Regions from separate parts of the Homo sapiens genome. Here region 1 is linked to region 2. The links come from fine-mapping of genetic effects on gene expression. A gene starts in region 2. The other region holds a variant in brackets. All regions are shown on one strand. Distances are between the middles of the regions. Region 1 overlaps CDC42EP4 (CDC42 effector protein 4). Region 2 holds the start of CDC42EP4 (CDC42 effector protein 4).

What was found. PIP is the estimated chance that this variant, and not a neighbour inherited with it, causes the effect.
Region 1: its variant is fine-mapped to the expression of CDC42EP4 in whole blood (TOPMed, PIP above 0.99).

Annotation. Positions count from the first base shown.
Region 1 is chr17:73,285,822-73,298,135 of GRCh38, reverse strand. CDC42EP4 (CDC42 effector protein 4) reads left to right here. Exons shown (of 2, transcript NM_012121.5): 2 at 11,524-12,314. The coding sequence starts at 11,636. Among named protein-coding and RNA genes, the nearest start is that of CDC42EP4, 20 kb to the left of the region's middle. RefSeq lists enhancers at 6,151-6,220, 5,487-6,368, 6,352-6,646, 6,621-6,700, 6,991-7,210 and 2 more. The variant T/C (reference allele first, on the strand shown) is at 7,443.
Region 2 is chr17:73,306,440-73,318,753 of GRCh38, reverse strand. It overlaps CDC42EP4 (CDC42 effector protein 4), which reads left to right and starts at 6,753. Exons shown (of 2, transcript NM_012121.5): 1 at 6,753-6,861. RefSeq lists an enhancer at 55-807 and silencers at 6,375-6,534, 6,605-6,864, 7,315-7,864, 7,875-8,004.

The DNA.
Region 1 (12,314 bases), 21 kb after region 2:
CAGTTCTCACTCAGTCCTCAGTTGGCATCTTATGCTGGGATGTGGCTGCCGAACCCAGAGAACTAGATAGTCTTAAGCTGGTTTTGAAATGAATGCTTTTTCTTTAAGCCTTTGATACTTTGGGTTTTTTTTTTTTTTTCGCTGTTGTTGTTTGTTTGTTTGTTTTAAAAAGAAAAAGGCCAGGTGCGGTGGCTCACACCTGTAATCCCAGCACTTTGGGAGGCTGAGGCGGGTGGATTGCTTGAGGTCAGGAGTTCAAGACCAGCCTGGTCAACATGGGGAAACCCCGTCTTTACTGAAAATATAAAAATTAACTGGCCGTCATGGTGTGCACCTGTAATCCCAGCTACTTGGGAGGCTGAGGCAGGAGAATTGCTTGAACCTAGGAGTTGGAGGTTGCAGTGAGCTGAGATGGTGCCACTACACTCCAGCCTGGGCGATAGAGCAAAACTCCATCTCAAAAATAAATAAATAAATAAATAAACAAAAAGAAAAAGAGGCTGTTTTCCTCTCAAGGCTAACATAACTTCTTAATTTCTCCATGTGCCCTTTTAGTCTTTATTCACAGATGCATATTTGTGTAGAGTTGTAACCACTATACATAAACAAGTATATGTTCTGCCTGTTTTTCTATTTATTTTAAATTTTTATTTATTTTTTTTGAGACAGAGTCTCACTCTATTGCCCAAGCTGGAGTGCAATGGCGTGATCTCAGCTCACTGCAACCTCCGCCTCCCGGGTTCAAGAGATTCTCCTGCCTCAGCCTCCCGTGTAGCTGGGATTACAGGCACGCGCCACAACACCTGGCTAATTTGTGTGTGTGTGTTTTTTTTTTTTTTTGGAGACGAAGTCTTGCTCTTGTCCCCCAGGCTGGAGTGCAATGGCGCGACCTTGGCTCACAGCAACCTCCGCCTCCCGGGTTCAAGTGATTCTCCTGCCTCCGCCTCCCAAGTAGCTGGGATTACAGGCGCCTGCCACCACACCTGGCTAATTTTTGTATTTTTAGTAGAGATGGGGTTTCACCATGTTGGCCAGGCTGGTCTTGAACTCCTGACCTCGGGTGATCTGCCCACCTCGGCCTCCCAAAGTGCTGGGATTACAGGTGTGAGCCACGGCGCTTGGCCTTGTGTATTTTTTTTTTTTTTTTTTTTTTTTGAGACGGAGTCTTGCTCTTTCGCCCAGGCCAGACTGCAGTGGCGCTATCTCGGCTCACTGCAAGCTCCGCCTCCCGGGTTCACGCCATTCTCCTGCCTCAGCCTCCCGAGTAGCTGGGACTACAGGCCCCCCTCACCGCGCCTGGCTAATTTTTTGTATTTTAGTAGAGATGGGGTTTCACCATGTTAGCCAGGATGGTCTCTATCTCCTGACCTTGTGATCCACCCTCCTCGGCCTCCCAAAGTGCTGGGATTACAGGCGTGAGCCACCGTGCCCAGCCGTGTATTTTTTTAAAAGTAGAGACGGGGTTTCAACAAGTTGGCCAGGCTGGTACTGCACTCCTGACCTTCGCCTTGGCCTCTGTTCTGCCTTTTGTTTGCACTTCCATTTAATGCCATTTGGTAAACATTTGGTCCATGTTGTCTATGGTCTTCATAGTTCCCACTTTCCATGACTGCTGAATGGTGCTCTGAGTTAATGGCTCCCAGCTTTCTTAGCCATTCCATTCCTCCATCACTGGGCATTAGGCTGTCTGTCTCCAGTCTTTTTTTTTTTTTTTTTTTGAGATGGAGTCTCCCTCTGTTGCCCAGGCTGGAGTGCAATGGCGTGATCTCGGCTCACTGCAACCTCTGCCTCCCAGGTTCAAGCCATTCTCCTGCCTCAGCCTCCTGAGTAGCTGGGATTACAGGCGCACACCACCAGGCCCAGCTAATTTTATTTTTTTATGTATTTTTTAATTTTTTTTTTTTTTGTATTTTTAGTAGAGACAGGGTTTCGCCATATTGGTCAGGCTGGTCTCAAACTCCTGACGTCGTGGTCCACCCGCCTCGGCCTCCCAAAGTGCTGGGATTACAGGCGTGAGCCACTGCGACTAGCCTGTCTCCAGTCTTTCGCTATTATGAATAAGGCTTCAACAAATACGTGTGTGACTTTTTTCGCCTTTGAAATAGTTCCACAGGGTTAAGTTCTAGGAGGTAAATCATATTCATTTAAATCACATTCATTTTAAAGCCATTATTTGAGGAAACTGAATCATATTCATTTTAAAACCATCATTCTTTTTTTTTTTTTTTTGGAGATGGAGTTTCACTCTTGTCGCCTGGGCTGGAGTGCAATGGCATGATCTCAGTGTGCTGCAACCTCTGCCTCCCAGGTTCAAGCAGTTCTCCTGCCTCAGCCTCCCTAGTAGCTGGGATTACAGGCACCCGCCACCATGCCTGGCTAATTTCTTTGTATTATTAGTTGAGATGGGGTTTCACCATGTTGGCCAGGCTGGTCTCAAACTCCTGACCTCAGGTGATCCACCTACCTCAGCCTCCCAAAGTGCTGGGATTACAGGCATGAGCCACCACACCTGGCCAAAACCATCATTTATTTTAAAGCCATTATTTGAAGAAATTTTGCTGGAGTTTCATGTACCGCAAGACCACCCCACCCTGGGACCATTTTGACTCTGAGCAGCTCTTGGATCAGAGTTTTGTAATGTTCCCCCTGCCTGGTGGCACCTAGTACCAATTGCTCAGTGGGAGGAAGGTCCTTCCCTCTTCTCTTTCCCAGCTCTTAATTTGGGCAAGATGGTAGCAAACATCAGAAGGTTGTCCTAGTGCCTGGCGGTGAGCCCATTGAGGTGTTATCTGGGGAAGATCTTTGGGGTGGGAGTCAAGAGACTTGGGCTCCAGCACCGCCCGGCTCCCTTGTGAGTTCTGTGGCCTTTGGCAAGTCACCTCTCCTGGTCCCAACAGCCTAATCAAGACCACTGGGTTGGATCCTCTCCCAGATGTCTACCATCTCTCAATCTCAGTGGGAGTCATGTGACACAGTGGGTGCTGCATTTTAGCACCCCAAGGAGTACATAAGAAAATCCACTGGGGCCAGGCGCAATGGCTCAAGCCTGTAATCCCAGCACTTTGGGAGGCCGAGGCAGGTGGATCCCCTGAGGTCAGGAGTTTGAGACCAACTTGGCCAACATGGTGGAACCCCGTCTCTACTAAAAAAAATACAAAAATTAGCCGGGTGTGGTAGCAGGTGCCTGTAATCCCAGCTACTCAGGAGGCTAAGGCAGGAGAATTGCCTGAATCTGGGAGGTGGAGGTACAGTGAGCCAAGAGTGCACCATTACATTCCAGCATGGGCAACAAGAGCGAAACTCTGTCTCAAAAAAAAGAAAGAAAAAGAAAATCCACTGGGATTTAGAAAGAACACACCAAAACTTGTGCACATGCGTGTGTGTGTGTGGTGTGTGTGTGTAAACTAAAACTTACTAATGCGTGGAATGACAATAGACATGAATATAACCTATAAAAATATATATGTGTGTAGATATATACACATATATGTATATACACAAATTACATATTCAGTGTTTGTCCTGTGATGCCCCCTACTTTTGATAGTACATTGCTGTTTAAGTGAATGGAGCCCTGGGGTGGGAATTAAACTCTGGCTTCAATCCATGACCTAGGGCAAGTCCCTTAATTTGGTCTTTCCATCTTGAAAGTATGATCCCTCCACACCCAGGTATTTTAAGGAGATATTTGACACAGATACATAAATGGTACAGGAGTCCTGATGGTGACATTTCATGTTCCCATCCTGGGTTTGTTTTTTTGTTTCTTTGTTTGTTTTTTTTTGAGACAGAATCTTGCTCTGTCACCCAGGCTGGAATGCAGTGGCGCGATCTCAGCTCACTGCAACCTCCACCTCCTGGGTTCAAGCGATTCTCCCTGCCTCAGCCTCCTGAATAACTGGGACTACAGGTGCACACCACCATGCCTGGCTGATTTCTGTGTTTTTAGTGGAGATGGGGTTTCACCATGTTGGCCAGGCTGGTCTCGAACTCCTGACCTCAGGAGATCCACCCGCCTCAGCCTCCCAAAGTGCTGGGATTACAGGTGTGAGCCACCACGCCCGGCCTTGTGTTTGGTTTTTGATTGTGGTTACTTAGGCTCAGAATATTACAGCAGTGAGCCTTAACCTCCTTGCGCACGCAGCACACTTCCAGATGCAAGGGCTTTTGAGCAGGGCACATGAAGGAGTTAAAAGATCCCCAAGAATACTAAAGTCAGCTAAAATCACAACACAGTCGGCATTGAAGTCCTGCCTGGAACATGTAACCACGTGTATCTAAGCGGTCACTGTTCTCGCCCATTCACTTAGCTGCCCTCAGCCCTGCCACAGTTTGAATGAAACACAGTCTTCCGCCTTCCCTGTGCTTTCCTATCTTTGCAGGGTAAGGCTGGTGAGTGTTCCAGAAAGTACTGGATTTTTCTCTGGTGACTAAAGCCAGAGTCCCTCACCTCTTAGAGTTGTGGCCCATGTCCCAGTGAGCCTCTTGCACAACCCCCTCCAGCGTGCTGTTCCATCTGACAAGCCTTGTGTAGCAGAATGCCACCTGTGTTTCGGCAAAGTGAAGTTCCGCCTAGGGGTAGGATGTCAGCCCCTCCTGTGAGAAGGGGCCGTGGCCTGCCAGGCAAAACCTGGGAAAGGATGGCCAGGACCAGAGGCTGCCCCTGGAAGGCCTGGAGTCCCATTTGATCCTGTCTTTTCTCTCCTCCCTGGTCTGGGCCCTCCACAATCCCGGGTGTCTCTACCTCCAAAACATGGCCTAAATGTCTCCCACTGTGTCCCCCTTCGCCAGACCCACATCCTGGTCTCCATCCTCTTTGACCTGCATTTCTGCAACAGCCTCCTGACTGAATTCCAGCTCCCCTCCTTCATTCCTCCAATGCCAGGACCTCCGGGAGCTTCCAGATACACAGATTGAATCACTCGCCTGCTTACAAACAGCCGCCGGTTTCCTTGTACACCTATAATGACCTCCAAACTCCTTACCTGGGCTGGGTGCGGTGGCTCATGCCTGTAATGCCAGAACTTTGGGAGGCCAAGGCGGGTGGATTGCTTGATGCCAGGAGTTCGAGACCAGCCTGGCCGACGTGGTGAAACCCCATCTCTAAAAACATAAAAAAATCGGCCAGGAGCAGTGGCTCCTGTAATCCCAGCACTTTGGGAGGCCGAGGCGGGCAGATCACCTGAAGTCAGGAGTTCAGGACCAGCCTAGCCAACATGGTGAAACCTGGTCTCTCCAAAAAATTCAAAAATTAACTGGGCATGATGGCAGGTGCCTGTAATAAAAACTAAAAACAAAACAGAACTCTTTATGTGGCCTGGTAGGGAGGGCTCTATGTAACCTGGGCCCTGGCTGCATGGATTTTTATTCTATTCCATAAATGCCACAAGCCTGTTCCTATACCCCGGCGTTTGCACGCGCCGTTCCCTCTGCCTGGGTCGCTTCTGACCCGGCTGGTTCCTTCTCATCATTTGGTTCTCAACTCATGATGCTCCTTCCTCAAGAGGGGCCTCCCCCAGACCCCCTGACTCCCACACCCACTCATACCACCCCTTTCCCTCCTTATACTGAGGAATATGAGATACCATTTATTTTATTTATAGGTTTACACCTCCATTCCCCACCCCCACCCCCCACACTCACACTACACACGTGCCCTGGGAAAACAGCGTGCTATTTTCACTGCTCTATCTCCAGGGCCTAGAAGAGTTTGTGAATATCAGTGGGTCTGCAGGAAGTCATGGAGTGAGTGACTGGATGATGAGTAATGGAACAAAGCCTCTTGTAGCCGATCCAGGTCACAACTAAAGTCATCGTGCACTAAAAGCCCTCTGCTATTCGGCCACATTGCCTGGACCTGGCATCGGGTGGTTGGTTAGAACAGCTAGGGGAAGGCCCTGCAGAGGGCATGCTGCCCAGCAGCAGTGGCGGAGGCAGTGGCAGTGGGCATTGAGGCATGTTGTGTACCCTGTATACCGGGGTGAACCGCAGGGCAGCTTCAGAGAGCGAGGCCTGCCTAGCTGCCCCATGAGAGCTCAGGTCTGGCGCCTGCCTCAAGCCAAGCTGCCAGGGACAGGCCACTGCCCGGTCACTTGGAGTGAGAAGTGTTGGTCCCGTCTGTCCTTCTGCTCTGGGTCTGCTGGGCTGGCCAAGCTGGGAGGGCCAGGGAGGATAGGCGAGGGGTCCAGGCAAGGGTGGTCTTCCGTAGTCTCAGGAACAGGGCTGAACTAAAGGTGTGGTTGCTGTGACCCAAGCAGGGGCCTGACCTTCTGGGGAGGGCTCCTCGTTCCCACCTTAAAGGAAGGTTCCGTGGTCAGTGGGCTGAGGGTAGAGGAATCTGTTCCTCCGGAGGCTCAGGAGAGCTAGGGAGGGCTGTGAGCTGTGATCCATTTTCCCTCTCCCTGCCAAGAAAGTGGGATGTGGTTTCTGGGGTGGGGTGGGGGTGTCCCGCCCAAGGCAGGCTATGGGGAGTGCCTGCCCCACGTTGGGCAGCCTATTTTAGCCACTTCCCCAGAGCTGAGTCACCATGCTTCTGAAAGCCCCGCCCAAAGCCACAATGCCCTGTGGCCTCCCAAACCATAGCTGCCCCCAGGACCTGCCCAGGCCTCTGGCGAGACTCCCACCACCTACTTTCTCTTAAACTCTATGATCCAGCTCGTCACCTCCAAACTGTTCTCTGTTAGAAGCTCAGAGTGACTCAAGGTCACTCAAGGCTGGTGAAACCAAGCTGTTGCTGACCCTCAATCCTGCTGGGTGGCCTGTCTAGTCTGAGCTCCAGACACCCAGGCCTCATCCCCAGTGTGGACTGCCAGGTACTGCAGCCCCCTCCTCGCTGGGGCAGTGGGACAGATGCGTGACTCCCTCTAGGCCCCAACTCTCTCAGGACCCTTCCTTGCTGGTTATTGAAGATGGCTTTCTACAAGCCACAAAGTCTCGTTCCCAACCCCCCAGGAAGCGAGACCGTGGCAGCAGGCAGCACTGGGTAGACCTGTCCCTGTCTTTCTGGGGTGTGGGGTTGAACAAGATCCTGGGGACCCCAGGGCTAGCCCAGGATGGCCGTGATTTCAGCTGAGTTTCCCTGCTGTCCCCTCTGACCTACCTCAATAGTTCTACCCGCAAGGATGTGCTGGGTGGTGTGGCTAATGGGATGCGGGGAGCTGTCCTCCCCTGTAGCCATCATGGCCAGGATATTTGGTCCCTTTGGGCAGCCACAGTGACCTGCAGCTTCTCTGGTGAGTCCTGGGGAGCCGGGTCTGTGGTTTCCCTTTCTTTCCTCTCTAATGAGCGTATAAGATCGGGAAACCACAGGACCTGACATCACTCACAGGGTCTGGGGGTTCCTGCCTTGGCGTTGAAACCCTTAACGCAGCTCTGGGGGCTCGTGCCGCCATGTTCTCACCCGGTTCTGACCATCCACACCCGCCTCCCTGCTTCTCTGTCTT[T/C]GTTGTTTACCTGGTGAGCATACCTGCTCTATCTTCACCTGTGTGTTCTCACTCAAGGCTGCTGTTTCTCAACTGGGGCAGTTTTGCCTCCTGGGGGACATTGGGCAATATCTTGAGACAGTTTTGCTTGTTGTGACTGGGGGGTGGATGCTACTGGCATCTAATGGGTAGAGACCAGGGATGCTGCTGAATATCCTACAGTGCACAGGGCAGGTCCACCTCCCGATGAGAAATTATCTGGCCCAAATAGCAACAGTGTGGAACCTGCTCTAGGATTACACAAGAACCTTCTTGAAGCAGCTGTTGGGTACCCCCTTCTCTGTACCCTGCCGGCCAGCAGTGGGGAGGAGCACTCAGTGGTCGGTGGTCACTGACCAGCAATGCCGCCGCCAGAGCTGGAGAAGGGCCTGGAGTGGAGCGGAGAGAGCTCTGGACTCAAAGACCCAGTTTCTAGCCCAGCTCTGTTGCTTTGGGCTAAAAACCTGGATAAATCACTTTCCTTCAATAAACTTGTTTCCTCATCCATAAAGTGAAAGTGCTGCACTGAATATCCCCTCCAGTTCTTTGAGATTCCTGGATGCTGTGCGTAGAGCCAGGAGTCGGGGTGCAGGCAGGTGGAAGATGGGGTCCCCTCCGTTCCTGACTGGTGTCCCTGCTGGTGGCAGTAGAAGCCTGAAGGATTTGCCAGGAACGAGAGTTCGTTTGAAGCTTGGCCTTTTTCCCTTCTATGCCCAACGTGACTGAGGCAGAGTCTACCTTCTCTTTTTCTTTTTCTTTTCTTCTGCTGCTTCTTTTTCTCTTTCTTTCCTTCCTTGCTTTTCTTTTCCTTTCTTCCTTTCTTCTCTTCCTTTCCTTTCCTTCTTTCCTTTCTTTTTCTTTCTCTCTTTCTTTTTTTCTTTCCTTATTTCCTTTCCTTCCTTCCTTTCCTTCCCCTCCCTTCCTCCCTCCCTTCCTCCCTCCCTCCCTTCCTCCCTTCCTGTTTTCTTCAGAGTTTTGCCTAGGAGCCCATGGCTGGCCAAGAGGGTCATATATGATATTCAGGAGTCAGCAAACTACAGTCCATGGGCCAAACCCAGCCTGCGTTTGCTTTTGTAAATAAAGATGTGGCTTTTTGGTGGTTTTTTTTCTTTTACTGGTTTATTACAAAAGATACGACTCAGGAACAGCCAAACGGAAGAGCTGCATGAGGATGCGTGGGGTCAAGTGTTGGGGTGGGGGGCAGGGCACGCACCACCTTCCTGGCACCTCGATCTGCTCACCAACCCAGAAGTTGTCTGTAAATAAAATGTTATTGGAACATAGCCATGCCTACTTGTTTACATGTTGCTATGGCTCCTTTCTTTCTTTTTTTGATTTTGTGTAGAGATGGGGTCTCACCGTGTTGCCCAGGCTGGTCTGGAACTCCTGGGCTCAACTGATCCTCCTGCCGTAGCCTCCCAGAGTGCTGGGATTACAGTTGTGACCCACTGTGCCCGGCCAACGGCTAGTTTTATACTAAGAAGACAGTTGAGTAGCTGTGACAAAAACCCTATCAGCCACAAGGCCGAGAATATTTACTCTCTGGCCCTTTGCAAAAAGTGTTTGCTGACCTTTGGTCTAGCGGTTCAATGTCTAATTGTTTAGAGGTTGAGGTGGGGCAGGAGGGTGGGGCCCAGAGATAATCCAAGTTAGAGTTAGGGGAAGGTCACTTTCCTAAGGGTAGGGAGGAGAGAGAGCTGACCTATGACCCAGAGTAGAGTATCATCTCAAGGCATCCCTCACGTCCTCGCCCACGTCACTGTGTGGCAAGTCTGCCAGGTGCCTGGCTCCCCCTCCCTGCCCGAGAGAACTTTGTGTTTGCTGGAATGATAAGCGGTATGGCGTGGGCACTGGGAGGGGGGACATTGCTGGTGGGGGAAGCCATGAGGCTGGGCAGCAGAGGCTTGAGAGAACAGGGAAGCGGATGGGGGTGAGGATGCAGAGAGGTCAGGCTGGGAGCCCTGGAGCCAGGCTGTGGGCAGAAGGGGAGGAGAGGAGGGAGGTGCTGGACTTCCAGTGGGTGCTTGGAGGCGGTTGGAGGCGGACCATGTGTCACACCCTGCTGGACCAGACTCGGTGGTAAACAGACCTGTTAAAACCCTCTGGATGGACCAGGCGCGGTGGCTCACGCTGATCCCACGTCCTGATCCCAGCACTGGGAGGCCGAGGTGGGTGGATCACCTGAGGTCAGGAGTTCGAGACCAGCCTGACCAACATGGTGAAACTCCATCTCTATCTCTACTAAAATTACAAAAAAAAAAAAAAAATAGCTGGACGTGGTGGTGTGCACCTGTAAATCTCAGCTACTCAGGAGACTGAGGCAAGAGAATCGCTAGAACCCGGGAGGCAGAAGTTGCAGTGAGCCAAGATCATGCCATTACACTCCGGCCTGGGGGACAGGGCGAGAATCTGCCTCAAAACCCTAGAAGTTTGTACTGCAGTGGGAAGATGAGAGTCCAGCCAGCAGGGACAGAATAATGTAGCCAGTATCTGCTGGAAGAGGGGACATCTCCCAAAGTGCCGTGGGGGGCAGGTGGTGGCTAAAGGTTTCCTGGGAGTAGTGATGTGTCCCAGCTGAGCCCTGAAGGATGCTGGGTGTGGCAGGGGTTGCATTGGGGAACTGTTTGTATCCACTGCAGCTCAGGGGATAGATCAGGGTACAAAAGTAGGGGACACTGAGGAGCGAGGTGGGGACTAGTCATTGGATCAAGGGGTCTGCACTGGGTAGGGCGTCATGTGGATGGGTTTTGTTTTAGCCAAGAGGTGAAGGATGGACAGGAGGGAGACCAACAGGGAGACCTGTCAGGCTGATGTCAGGGGCCAGGTGGGGTGTGGTGGGCTTGTGTGACGCAGCGGCAGGCATGCGGAGGAAGCACCCAGCATCTGAGTTTTGCAGTGGGAAGAGTGGGTCTGGACTGGGGGTGCCTCTCAGAACTGTGCTGCTGGCTGGACTGGGAGGCAGGCAGGTACCTGGTGTCCAAGCATCACCTCTCACCCACCATACTTTGTTAAATCCCTGCACCCATCTCTCCCCAACCTGCCCAGCTCTGCTGGGCTTAGTATTTGGGGCAAGCCCCTCTAGGGAAGAGAGGGGCTGGTTTGGCCCCAATGCTGAACTTCAACTTGGCCCTTGTCAGGAGCTGTGAGAGTGGTGCCTCCAGGCTCCTGGGCTCTACCTCTGCTGTTTTTTGGATTTCTGGTGAATCACCTAGGAATCAGTCTGCAGATCCTGGGGGGACGAAGTCATTTAGGGTCCAGTCCCTGCCTCCCACTCCCCTAATGATGAAAGAAACTGGAAGTTGCCCAATCTTGATCTCCCCGAGACACCAGAAGGTGGACCCTCAGCAAAGAGCCTGGGGCTCCACAGTGGAGACGTCACAGGCGGGATCCTCATTTATGGGATACCAAGCGAAGGCTGAAAGGCTGGGGAGCTGGTTCTGTGGGTCCCAGCAGCCCCACCCCAGTTCTGATTCAGAAAGAGGACTGTGCCGCCCACGCAGGGGGAGGAGCTGGTCAGCCTCTGTCTCCCTGAGCCCGTCCTGTCCTTTCCCTTCTCTCTCTGAGGACCAGGACTCAGGGTGGGGTGTCCACTAACTCCACAGGGATCGAGGTTAGACAGCAGGAAGAACTTACAGCACATCTCCAGGCTGACTGTTCATAGGAGCCAACTCATAGACTCCATCTCTTCCCTGGCTTGCTGCCTGGAATTGCTGGATTTACCTTCGCGTCCTTAAATGTGGTCATGTTTACTCTGGCAGCATCCTGGCTTGCAGGGGCAGGGGAGGCATTGTCTTCTGCAAGAAAGGTTCTGTCTCTCTCAAGTTTCAGGGAAAGTGTGTCCGAGGCTACTGGAACTCTAACCAGATTTGCAAAATCACTCCTCTACTCTGAATGCCTGCGGATGAAGAAACAGGCAGGGTTATACCATGGATTGCTGGCTTATTTCACAGCATTTAACTTTGGTAGGAGCGCTGGGGTTTAAATGACAGTCCCCTGGCAAAGAGGCTTTTGTGCCGTGTGGCCAGCCCGCGTTAATCCTTTGCCTCTCATTCTCTGCTTGCAGCCTTATGATCTCCTCATTGCGTCCCCCTCTGCCCACTGGACTTGGACTTCAGATCTGACCCCAGACCTGCCGGCTACCTCGGGAGGGCCCACCTCCCCGCCCATCCAGCAAGATGCCAATCCTCAAGCAACTGGTGTCCAGCTCGGTGCACTCCAAGCGCCGTTCCCGAGCGGACCTCACGGCCGAGATGATCAGCGCCCCGCTGGGCGACTTCCGCCACACCATGCACGTTGGCCGGGCCGGAGACGCCTTTGGGGACACCTCCTTCCTCAATAGCAAGGCTGGCGAGCCCGACGGCGAGTCCTTGGACGAACAGCCCTCTTCTTCATCTTCCAAACGCAGTCTCCTGTCCAGGAAGTTCCGGGGCAGCAAGCGGTCACAGTCGGTGACCAGGGGGGAGCGGGAGCAGCGTGACATGCTGGGCTCCCTGCGGGACTCGGCCCTGTTTGTCAAGAATGCCATGTCCCTGCCCCAGCTCAATGAGAAGGAGGCCGCGGAGAAGGGCACCAGTAAGCTGCCCAAGAGCCTGTCATCCAGCCCCGTGAAGAAGGCCAATGACGGGGAGGGCGGCGATGAGGAGGCGGGCACGGAGGAGGCAGTGCCCCGTCGGAATGGGGCCGCGGGTCCACATTCCCCTGACCCCCTCCTCGATGAGCAGGCCTTTGGGGATCTGACAGATCTGCCTGTCGTGCCCAAGGCCACGTACGGGCTGAAGCATGCGGAGTCCATCATGTCCTTCCACATCGACCTGGGGCCCTCCATGCTGGGTGACGTCCTCAGCATCATGGACA
Region 2 (12,314 bases):
CTTTATTTATTTATTTTTTCAGAGATAGGGTCTCACTCTGTCACCCAGGCTGGAGTGCAGTGGTGTGATCTTGTCTCACTGCAACTTCCGCCTCCCAGGTTCAAGCGATTCTCCTGCCTCAGTCTCCCTAGTACCTGAGATTACAGGCGCCCGCCAACTCCTGACCTCAAGTGATCCACGCGCCTCAGCCTCCCAAACTTAGGTCCTTTTAACTGTGAGACCAGCCAGCATCCAAGTAGTGACACCTTGGTGTGGTCCTAGCTTGGGGATGAGTTCTGACCTGCATTAGCCACCAACCCCACGCCATCAGCATGAGTGGGATCTCTTGTAGTCTCCATTGTGCAAATGAGACCAAGCCCTGGGGGAGCTCAAGGGACTTCTCAGATCACAGTGACAATTTAGATTCAAAGCCAGTATCATCTGGCCCTAGGGCCCGTGTTTCTAACCAGGACTCTCAGGCCTTTGGAGCACCAGGTGGAATCCTCTGCTCAGAGGCGTGGTTGGGCTCCCCCATTTTTGCCACGGGTCACAGTGGGTGAAGCTCTGGGCTTCAGAAATCCGGGGGTCACAGGAAACATTCTTCCCAGGGCCCCTGCTTGCAAGTTTTACTGACTTTAGTTGACTTCTCTGCTAATTTTCTCAGCAGCCCAGAGCTTTTGCTGTATCTTTCTTGCCCACTCTTTTCTCCCTGCTGGATGAACAAGAAATTTAATATCATCTCCTGCTTTCTTGGAAATGTCCCAGCTCAGTGGTCAGGAGTGGCCTGTTAATAACCTGACAATGCACAGTGACAGATTCCTGAGTGGGGTGTGGGGAGGCCTGGCTGTCTGTCTTTTCCCTGCAGAGGGAAGGAGGGAGCCACAGTACCCAGAACCCTAAAGCTCAACTTAGTAACAACCTAATAGTAGCTAGGGCCTTCCTTTAGACTTTTCAGGAAGCAAGATCACACGCCTTATCTCCTTCCATTCTTCTGATAGCCTCCTATGGCCTGAATTATTACCATGCCCCCCTTACAGGTGTGACTCAAAGCGATAAGACGACTCCTCCAAGGTCACACAACAAGTACAACCCAGGTGTTCTAAGCCCCACATCTGGACTCATTTCCTGTAAATTTCATGACCCCTCTGCTCTGCTACTGCCCCTTCACACACCTCATCCCATCTTTGAGCCTAGTTCAATCCTATTTTCACCTCCTGCCTCCAGAGAACCCCCAGCCTTGTGAACGGCGTCTCTCTGGGCCAGGGGACCTCTGACACACAGCGGCCTCCCTCACCTCCTGGGCCAATTTGTGCTGTGAACCCTTGGGAGCTGCCGTTCTGGGACGATGTGTGACCCTGTGGGCCAGTACAGCTCATTTCAGGGAAAAAGTGACCACACAGAGCTTAGTTGAGGCTGGGGTTGCAAATGGAAGAAGGGAGGGATGTGGGCTGTGAACTCTGCTCATTCATTTGTCTAGCAAATGCACTGTGTGCCAACCCACGCTGGAGGTTCAGACATGAACTGAACACCACCCTGTCCCCAGGGAGGCCAAGGGGAAATCGTATTGCTTTACTCTCTAGGCATGCACTGGCTGCCCCAGCCCCCTGATGTGCGTGAACTCCCCCAGAAAATCAGGGTTATGCCCCTGAAACCTGGGGCAGAAAGAGCCCCCAGATGCAGGTACTTTTCCCCACCATGGTGGAGGAGTCTTGTCTGGAGCCCCAGGCACTCTGCCAGTAGTTTGGTATTTTCAGGATTTTCCCAGCTGCTCAGCAGGTTGCCCCAGCCCCATGAAAGGGCTCCAGGTGGTTCCCAAGAACGGGGAAGCAAGGCGTGAAAGAGCCTCTCTCTTGCAGGCATGGGAGTGGACAGCCCAGCGCCAGGCCACCCCAGCTGATGGGCTCCTGACCTGGATCACCAAGGCTCCACCCAAACTGTGCTGACATCAAGCCATGGTGGCACCTTGAGGTTCAGTCCAGGACCATCTTGTCTCACCTCAATAGGGGAAGGGGGGCTCAAAATAGACTTGAAAGCCAGGCACGGTGGCTCACACCTATAATCCCAGTCCTTTGGGAGGCAGAGGAGGGAAGATCACTTGAAGTCAAGAGTTCGAGATCAGCCTGGCCAACAGGGTAAAACCTGCCTCTACTAAAAAAAAAAAAAAATTAGCCAGGAATTGGCTAATTGGTAGTGGGCACCTATAATCCCAGCTACTCAGGAGGCTGAGGCAGGAGAATCGCTTGAACCCAGGAGGCGGAGGCTGCAGTGAACTGAGATTGCGGACTGCACTGCAGCCTGGGCGTCAGAGCAAGAATCCTAAAAAAAAAAAAAAAAAAAAAAAAAAAAAAGGGGAATAGACATAGAAAGTTGTAGTGTTCTTGCTTGGGGAGATAGCTTATTTCACGAAGAGAAATGACCTGCCCAGAGTCATACTTTAGGACAAACACCAGACTGGAATGAGTGGAACTTCCAGCCCCTCCAAGGAAATAGGACAAATTGGCCGGGCGCGGTGGCTCACGCCTGTGATCTTGCACTTCGGGAGGCCGAGGCGGGCAAATCACGAGGTCAGGAGATCGAGACCATCCTGGCTAACGTGGTGAAATCCCGTCTCTACTAAAAATACAAAGAATTACCCGGGCGTGGTGGCGGGCGCCTGTAGTCCCAGCTACTCAGGAGGCCGAGGCAGGAGAATGGCGTGAACCTGGGAGGCAGAGCTTGCAGTGAGCCGAGATCATGCCACTGCACTCCAGCCTGGGCAACAGAGCGAGACTCCGTCTCAAAAAAAAAAAAAAAAAAAAAAAAAGGAAATAGGACTAATTAACCTCTTAGAGCTGGGACAAAATAACATGAACTAAAATGCCCAGAACTCCATGTTAACAAACACTGGGATGTGGTATGTTGGTGCAAAAAAGTAATTGCGGTTTTTGCCATTGAAAGTAATGGCAAAAACCGCAATAACTTTTGCATCTACCTAATATGTGTTGGGGGTTGGGGGTGGATATTAGGGAGGGGCAAGTCCATGAAGCTGCAAGGATCATGCATGCCCAAGTCCCAGAGGCAGGCAGGCCCCAGCGGCCCCAGACAGGCAGAGACACACGCCTAGGCCTAAAGGCTTACAGGTCAAGTTACACCAAGGGTGCAGTTAAGACCTCAAATCCCTCTCCAAAGTCAGGGGCTTAGAGCTTGCCAGAAATTTCAAGTAGGTATGTATTCAAGCCTCAGATTTTTTATTTTGTTAATTTCCTCTGGTTACTCATAGACAGCTCTAGCCTAACGGGTTGGAGCAAAACTTGCTTCAGTGGATCCTTCGGAGAGAAATCCACAGGTCTGGGATTCCCACCATCAAAGAAAATGATCTTCTAATCACATCTTCCCTCAGAGGGCTAGGATGCAGTCTAGAAGCATCTACGGAGCCCCTCCCTGAAGCAGTTTGTTTCTACTCTAGGCGTCCTGAGGGCAGGGACTGGGCTTCGTTGTCTTTGTCCCCAAAGGCAAGCCTCCACTGTTGTTAAATGTTTGTGGAAGGAGCCTGAATTTGGGTAAGGAGCAGAATTACAAAGGGACCTAAAGACTTTGTCCCGGAGGTGTGCTTAATAGATATGGATGATAATTGGGAAAAGGAAAACAGATTACTAACAGCTAGCCCTAAGAAAACCGAAATACTTCATTTAAAATGGAAGGAAAGAGATGGGGAGAGGGAGATGTCTCAGAGAAAATAAGAAACGTTTTTTTTTTGTTTTTGTTTTTAACTTAAGCTATGATTTCAGGAGAAAGAGGTCCTGGAACGCCAGGAACCAGGGAGGACTTCCACCTGGAAGCAATGTGGTAGAAGGAGACCCACTGAGGGCCTGCATATGCCCAGCAAATGGCCAGGTGCCTTTGTTTGTTTGTTTGTTTGTTTTTTGAGACAGGGTCTCCCTCTGTTACCCAGGCTAGAATGCAGTGGCATGATCTTGGCTTACTGCAGCCTCAACCTGCAGGCTCAAGTGGATTCTCCCATCTCAGCCTCCCAAATAGCTGGGACTACAGGCATGCACCACCACACCTTGCTGATTTTTGTATACTTTTGTAGAGATGGGGTTTCGCCAGGTTGCCAGGTTTCTCTTGAACTCCTGGGCTCAAGCGATCCACTGGCTTCAGCCTCCCAAAGCAGTGGGATTACAGGCATGAGCCACCGCGCCCAGCCTAAGTGATCTCTTTTAATATTCACCCCAATAGGGGAAGGTAGAGATTGCTGTTCTCACTTTACAGATGGGGAAGCTGGTGGATAACTTGTCAGCTCATAAATGGCAGAGCTAGAATTCCAATCCAGAGGCGTCTCCAAACCTCTATCCAGCGAGCCTTACCCACAGTCCTGTTGCAGCTCCTACTTCTTTTGAGGACACCTTTGGCACTAGGTCATGATGACAGCAATCACCTCCATTCTGGTTGCTTTCTAGTCATAAAGCGCTTTCACACCTGATATCTCATTCCTCTTTACACCCTCCAGACGAGGCTAGCAGAGGGGTCCTGTGCTCTTTGGACACATAAGGACAGCCAGGCTAGCTAAGGGTCAGAGGTGGGAATTAGCGACTTCCCCATGTGAAAGGGAATAGAATCTCGGGACCCCAAATTCACTATGTCAAAGGGAAAGTTTAATCCCAGCACTTTTGGAGGTTGAGGTGGGTGGATTGCTTGAGCTCAGGAGTTTGAGACCAGCCTGGGCAACATGACAGAACCCTGTCTCTACAAAAGAAAAAGTACAAAATATGTAGCTGGGCATGGTGGCGCACACCTGTAGTCTCAGCTACTCAGGAGGGTGAGGTGGGAGGATCGCTTGAGCCCAGGAGGCCAAGGCTATAGTGAGCTACGATTGCAGCACTGCACTCCAGCCTGGGCAACAGAGCAAGACCCTGTCTCCAAAAAAAAAAAAGGGGCGGGGCTGGGGGGGACGTTAAGCTTGGAAACCACAGAAGCTGCTTTCCTTTTGTTCCCAGATAGCTGCAGTTTCACAACCCTGTTGACACAGGGTTTCCTTTGCTCCCCTTAGACGTACTGAGTAGGAGACAATGCATCATTGACTTTTTCTTCTATTCCCTTTCACATGTAAAATGTAGACTTACAGACACTAAATCAGAGCCTCACACGCTTGTGACCTCAATGCCTTTCCTCCCTCTCTCCCTCTTCTTTTCCTTTCCTGCTTGCTTTTTCTCTTTTAAATACAGAAGTTCCCAAAACCTTTTTGGAAAAAAGGTGATTTTTCCCCGGTGGATCCTCAACCTTGGCTAACTAAACCTCTATTTGATTGAGATCTGCCTTAGTCACTTTTTGGTTTACATCCATGATAACCCCGCCAGGGTTTGAATCCACAGTGTCTGCCTCCCAAGTGGCTCCAAACCCTACCTTTCCCTCCAGATGTCCAGTTCAGAATTTGATTTTACTTATTATTCATTTATTTTTTTTTTTGAGATGGAGTCTACCTCTGTCACCCAGGCTAGAGTGCAATAGCGCGATCTCGGCTCACTGCAACCTCCACCTCCCAGGTTCAAGCGATTGTCCCGCCTCAGCCTCCTGGGTAGCTGGGATTACAGGCGCCCACCACCATGCCCGACTAATTTTTGTATTTTTGGTAGAGATGGGGTTTCGCCATGTTGGCCAGGCTGGTCTCAAACTTCTGACCTCAAGTGACCCCCCACCTGCCTTGGCCTCCCAAAATGCTAGGATTACAGGCATGAGCCACTGCGCCCAGCCCAGAACTTAATTTTCACAGCAGGATGGAGTGGCCAAACCATTAGCTCTCAAGAGCTGGTTGCTGTCGCACTGCAGAGGGAAACGGAAATGTGCTGTCCCCAGAAAGCAGAATGTTCCTGAGGGCTTAGGGACCTCGCAGCCATGGGGAAAGTCTGGGGCCTTCACCCTCACTTCCTTTAAAAACCGAGGGTGGGGTTCAGCTAGAGGCAAGGGAACTTTTCACTTTGCGCCTTGTCCACTTTAGTTGACTACTTCGCAGCTGGCATTCTACCTTGATAATGATCATTTCAACTGAAACTATTCCTCTAAAAAGAATAGAGTCCAAGGCCTGGGACTTGGATTCAGGCTCTGGGACTCAGGAGTTGATCCTCCTTGACGTTCACCTGGTGCAAATTTAGCCTCAGCTGATACTTAGGAGGCAAAGGCACAGACGGGGATGCGGGGAGCTCAAGGGCTGTCACCCTGTAGAAACATTTCTGACGCCCAGTCCAAGCCTGGCCTCGGGGCTGGCCGGCTCCTCCCCGCTCCCTCGTTTACAGCGAGAGTCTGGGATGGCACCCACGAAGCTGGTGGCGCCAGCCCTCCTGCCCCATCTCCCGACAGTACTGCAGCCAGGTGGTTAGCAGGTCCGGGAGGGAGCAGGAACGAGGAACGCCACCCGGGCTGGAGTTCTTGGTTTCTTGCCCCGGCTCGAATGGGGAAGAGCCTCAAAAGAGCCTCGCGCCAGGCCCCCGGAGGGAGACGCGCCCCTGGCCCTGGGGGCCCCAGTGGGGGTTCGCGGCCGGAGCGCAGGCTGGGGCGGGAGTGTCTCCCGGAAGCCGGGCGGGCCCAGGCTGCCCCATACGGAGTTGGGAAAGTCTCAGGCTTTCAGTTTGAACCGAGGAGGCCGAGCAGTCGGGCAGAGGTTCCCGACGGCCATTGGCTGCTGCGGCGCCGTGACATCAGCGCAGAGGGGTGCGCGGGGAGGGTTGCGCGGGGCGGGCGCGGGCGGAGCCTGGAAGGGGAGTGTCCTGGAGGCTCCCAGCCCTGAAAGCCCGAGAGCCAGAGGGAAACAAACGCCGGCGCTGACAGGGGCCGCCAGCCCCTCCGCCGCGCGGAGCCCACGAAGGGGACAGCGCAGCCGGCCCAGAGCTCGGGTCTCCGGGGACCGAGGTAGGCGACGGGCAACCGCCTCTGTCTGTGGTAGCCGCCTTCGCGCTGGGTGCCCTGGGTGGGCTTGGGGGTCTCGAGTCCCCCTGTGGGGCAGAGAGGATCGAAGCTGGGGATGCGAGGCCGCGGCGCGGGGAGAAGGGCGCGGAGCCCCCACTTCTCGGCGCTCGCGCTTTTCACCGCGCCCACCGCGGTGCCTGGGACCCTAAGCTGCGCACCTAGTGTCCTGGCAGAGCGGGATGTGTGGAGGAGGAGGTGGCAGGGAGCCGGGCGCAGCGTTGCCGGGACTCCATTTCCTCTCTCCACGCTGGAACTCCCGGCCCTGGCCAAGGGTGCCGCTGAGGGGGTTGGGGGCCGGTTTTAAAGGGCCTCCCCCTTCCCAGGAATGGGGTGTGTGTCGGTGTGGGCAGGAGCGCAGCAATCGGCGGCGCGCGGCCCGCGATCTCCGCGAGGGGGGCGTGTGTGCGCCCGGAGTTCTCCATGAATAAGAACCGAATTCTCCGCCTGTACGGGCAGAGGCGTGTACACATCTCGCTCTCGTACACACACTGCAGCACACGCCACCCAATGTCACCCGGCCGGGAAGCCAGAGGGAAGGAGCTGTCTGGAAGGGAATGGCCGAAGGAACAAATGGTCCTCCTTTCCCCTACTCCCGCCCCGCGAACCCTTCCCTCCCCCGCCAGGCTCCCGCCCCGCCCGCTCCCTCGGAAGCCCGGGAGGCCGAGGCGCCTCCTGGCGGGGTGCGGGGGGAGGGCAGTCGAGCCACCCGCCCCCTTGGAGCCGGGGAGACGGCCGCTCCTGGGCTAGTGCGCCCCGAGCTCAGCGCGCTCAGCGGGATCGCAGGCGGGAGCGGTCGGTTAATGATTTAATCGCCCGCTTGGGGCGGGTGCGCGCGGATCGGCCGTCCCTGGCCCCGCCCCCTCTCCGGAGCGCCCCCAGCCGGGGTTACAAAACTGCCCCCTGCCCCCGGCGCGTCCCCCAGGAGCCATCCTGCCCGCGGGGATCCCGTCAGCCGGTGAGTGCCCCGGCCGGGAGGGCTGGAGAGCTGGGCGGGAGCCGGGGCTGAGGCTGAGCCAGCTTCCTGGGAGAGGACTGAAGTGCGTGTGTGTGTGTGTGTGTGTGTGTGTGTGTGTGTGTGTGTGTGTGTGTGTGACTGGGGGAGGGGTGCTCGCTGCTAACTCAAACCAGGTTCCCTGTGTTTTCCCAGTGACTGCGGCCTCGGCTTTGGAAGTTTTCTTTTTCTCCCTGGGAGAATGGAGGGGAAATACAATGCCTTTTCTTTTCTCGTTGCCTCTGGAACTTCTCTCTCTCCACGACTCCCACCCCTTGCAATCTGACCGGCTCCCACATCCCTTACTGTGTGCCCGGTGCCCACTGTTTGCCCAGATAGCTGAGCAGCTGGATCCGGGTGGAGTCCTTGGGAGCCCCCGTCGCTGCGAAGCCCCCTGCCCTCCCCTGAGGGTCCAGGGTGCTGGAGGGAAAATCTCTCTCTCGTCCGAACCCCAGCAGCCATCTGTACCAGAGAAATGTCCCATCCAGCGAGTGTAAATAATGAGGGGCCGGTGACAGGGGCCTCCTGCAAGGCGACTTCTTTGGCAGTCTGGGTTTCCAATAACTCCCTCAGCCCCCGCCCGCTTCTGAGGCTAGGGTGGAGGAGGGACCACCAGCAGGGTGGACTGAATTTTAAGAGAACAAAGAACAGGCCACAAAGGAAGGGATTGCTGAGCTGCGGATTTCTGATTTCTCCCAGAAATCGGGAGTTGGCTGGGACTGAGCCAGGCCCTAAGAGAGCCCCTGGCAGCCCCAGGGGCTCCTGGGGCAATAACAGGGCATCCACCAGGATCTCCTGAGGCTCTATCTCTGCTGAGAAGCCAGTGCCTACTGAATGCGGGGGTGCCCTGCCGGTTCCTGCTCTCATCAACTGCCCTGTGTGAGCTGCACATGTGACTGACTGATTAGTGGGGTGGCTTATCTCCTCTGAACTTGGACTTTGCCTCTCCACTCCTTGAAGACAGCTGCTCCTTCCCACAAGGGGTGTTCAGTGAATTTGGGGAGATCCCAAGTGGATTCCCAGGCATCCTGGTGGACCCCTGCAGGGACTAGGAGGGGCCCGCTGTGATCATATGGGCGGTGGTTCTGGGGTGAGTCTCAGCGCCTCCCCTCTGAAATCTCCCTGAAGTCCTAGGGTCCCTGCACACAGAGGGCAGCTTGCTCCTGCTCTGCTGTACAGCCTAGGCCTGTGCTGTGAATGATTCTCCATTTTCTGGGGTTTCTGCCTCTCTCTTTTTGGATTCCTCTTCTCTTTTCCCCTCGTTTCTCTCTTTCCCTTGCCCACCCACCGTGCTTGTCCCCATCCTCTGTACCCTGCCTCCACTGTGCTGCTGCCTCTGGAACCCGACAGCACCTCACAGAACCAGAGACCAAGGAGTCAGAAGCAAAGGGAGGTCTCATGTATAAAGGTCAGGGGAGTGAGTGTTGACCTGGGAGAGGAATCTTACACCAGTCTTTTGATTTTAAAAATAATTTTTATTTTATTTATTAATTTTTTGAGACCAGGTCTTGCTCTGTCACCCAGGTTGTGGTGCAGCGTCATAGTCAAGGCTCACTGCAGGCTGGACCTCCTGGGCTCAAGCTATCCTCCCACTTCAGCCTCCTGAGTAGCTGGGACTACTGGCGCCCACCACCACGCCCAGCCATTTTTTGTATTTTTTGTAGAGGTGGGGTTTCACCATGTTGCCCAGGCTGGTCTTGAACTCCTGAGCTCAAGGGATCTTCCCCCACCTCGGCCTCTCAAAGTGCTGGGCATACAGGTATGAGCCACTGCACCTGGCCAACCCTTTTTTTTTTTTTTTTTTTTGGAGACAGAGCTTTGCTCTGTTGCCCAGGCTGGAGTGCAGTGGCACAATCTTGGCTCACTGCATCCTCCACCTCCCGGGTTCAAGCAATTCTCCTGCCTCAGCCTCTGCAGTAGCTGGGATTATAGGTGCATGCCACCACGCCCGGCTAATTTTTTTTTGTATTTTAGTAGAAACAGGGTTTCACTGTGTTGCCCAGGCCGGTCGCGAACTCCTGAACTCAGGCAATCCACCCACCTCGGCCTCCCCAAGAGCCGGGATTACAGGCGTAAACCACTGCACCCAGCCCTGGCCAACCCTTCTTAACAAGTCCAGAGCTTTTCCAGAAGGGCCTTGGGTTGGCAGTGGCCCAGGGCTTCCACCCCTTTGGAGTGACTGATTGATTTCTGCGGCCCGGACTGTCTGTGCGCAGGTGTGGCCAAAAGGTGTTTGATGTTGGCCTCTCCCTTTCACTCTCCCCCACCCCACGCCCCTACGTTTGGATTGGGTTCGAAGTGAAGAAGTCAGAAGTCAGAGTGGTCAGGGTTGCACTTGGTTAGCAGTAAGTCCAGCCTTCTGTGTTCTCATTCTGGTTCTGCAGACTCAGAGGAGTTTGTCCCTGTGGGGGGAGGGAGGAGTCCGTCCCTTGGAGGAATGGGGAGCTGGGTTGATGCCAGAGATAAGGCCTGTGGGCGGAGGGAGAAGGGTTGAGCAATCTCGCCCTGGAAACAGAGCTGACCTGAGCTCTGCGTAGCTCTTCTGACCTACGTACTGGAGGATTTTTCCCGACCGTGAGGAAAAGAACCAAATTCTGGAGCTGGGGACACTTTGAGGGGTCATCCGGCAGAGTGTCCTGAAGGCCAACTCCAGCCAGTGCTTCTGGGGTGCTCTAGGAAGGCCAAGCCCATGCGTGCCCTCTCTCGGCAGGGAACTGGATGGTAGTGCTGGAAGGAGCCCGCATGTGGCACTGGACACAGCCCTTTTTGCTTGAGTGCGTTGGGAAGGAAATTCAGACATTAGGGCCGGGCACAGTGGCTCACGCCTGTAATCTCAGCACTTGGGGAGGCCAAGGCGGGCAGATCACTTGAGGTCAGGAGTTTGAGATCAGCCTGGCCAATATGGTGAAACCCCGTCTCTACTAAAAATACAAAAATTAGCCGGGCATGGTGGCGTGCACCTATAATCCCAGCTACTGGGGAAGCTGAGACACAAGAATCGCTTGAACCCAAGAGGTGGAGGTTGCTGTACTCCAGCATGGGCGATAGAGTGAGACTCCATCTCAAAAAAAAAAAAAAAAAAAAGAGAGAAATTCAGGGCCAGGCGTGGTGGCTCACACCTGTAATCCCAGCACTTTGGGAGGCCAAGGCGGGTGGATCAGGAGGTCAGGAGATCGAGACCATCCTGACTAACACAGTGAAACCCTGTCTCTACTAAAAAGTACAAAAAATTAGCTAGGCTTGGTGGTGGGCGCCTGTAGTCCCAGCTACTTGGGAGGCTGAGGCAGGAGAATGGTGTGAACCCGGGAGGCGGAGCTTGCAGTGAGCCGAGATCGCGCCACTGCATTCTAGCCTGGGTGACAGAGCGAGACTCCGTCTAAAAAAAAAAAAAAAAAAAGAAAGAAAGAAAAATTCAGACATTAGTCTCCCACATTCCCGCTCACCGTGCCCCGAAAGCTCCAGCTTAAAATACGCCTTCTTGAGGAGACTTGGGCTTCCTTCCAACTAACTTACATTGGAGTCTCCCCCAGGCACTGCCAGCTTGCAGCTCTGGGCTCTGTGCCAGGATGGCAGTGCTGGCATCCAAAGCCCTCCCTTGCCAGGAACAGGGGAACTGGCTGTCTCCACTCAAGCTGAGGAAGGGTCTCTCTTTTGGGATTCAGGTGAGCACAGTTTAGGGTGTGGTCATTAATGAAGGCTTACAGTTCCCCACCTGTAAGAAACTGCTCTGCACACCTGGTGTTTCCCCTTCACCCCAAAGATGGAGCTGAAGGCATCTGGAAAAACCACAGTGCCAGGCAAGAAGGATCCCTGGATGTCTGTGCTCAGCCAGAGCTGCTTCAGCCACCATCTTCTGCCTTGGCCATCACGGTAGCAGAGGTTGTCTGGGGCAGCCTCCACCTCCCAGCATGAGACTCTGGGTTCTTCTTTTGCCCAGACACCTGCAGTTCTGGCAGTCACTGAACTTGGTCTGGAGACCCCAGCTTTGAATCTCTCCAAGTGTGCCAACAAAGCCAGGTTCTGTGTGCTGGCTTCTCTTTCCTGCCTGTCCTTCCTCTCTACCTCGGGTCTTCACTCAGTGCAACCTTCTTATTTCCTTACACTGTTGCCTCCAACCCTGAAGCATCAGAAAGGGACCTGTTCCCCTCAAGTCCTGGAATTGGGCTTAAGGCTTTGTCAAGTGGTACAAGGAGTAGAGAGCCCAAGAGAGCCCAAAAAGAGCCTAGGGGCTCGCAGTACGATTTGTGGTTACCTCTAAGGAGAATCTGGTTAGGTCCAAAAGATCAGATTATATTTTATTGGGGGTTGATCATATTGAAGTTTTGTGCATTATTTTTTTGTTTTGAGACAGGCTTTTTGCTGTGTTGGCCAGGCTGGAGTGCAGTGGTGCAATCACAGCTCACTG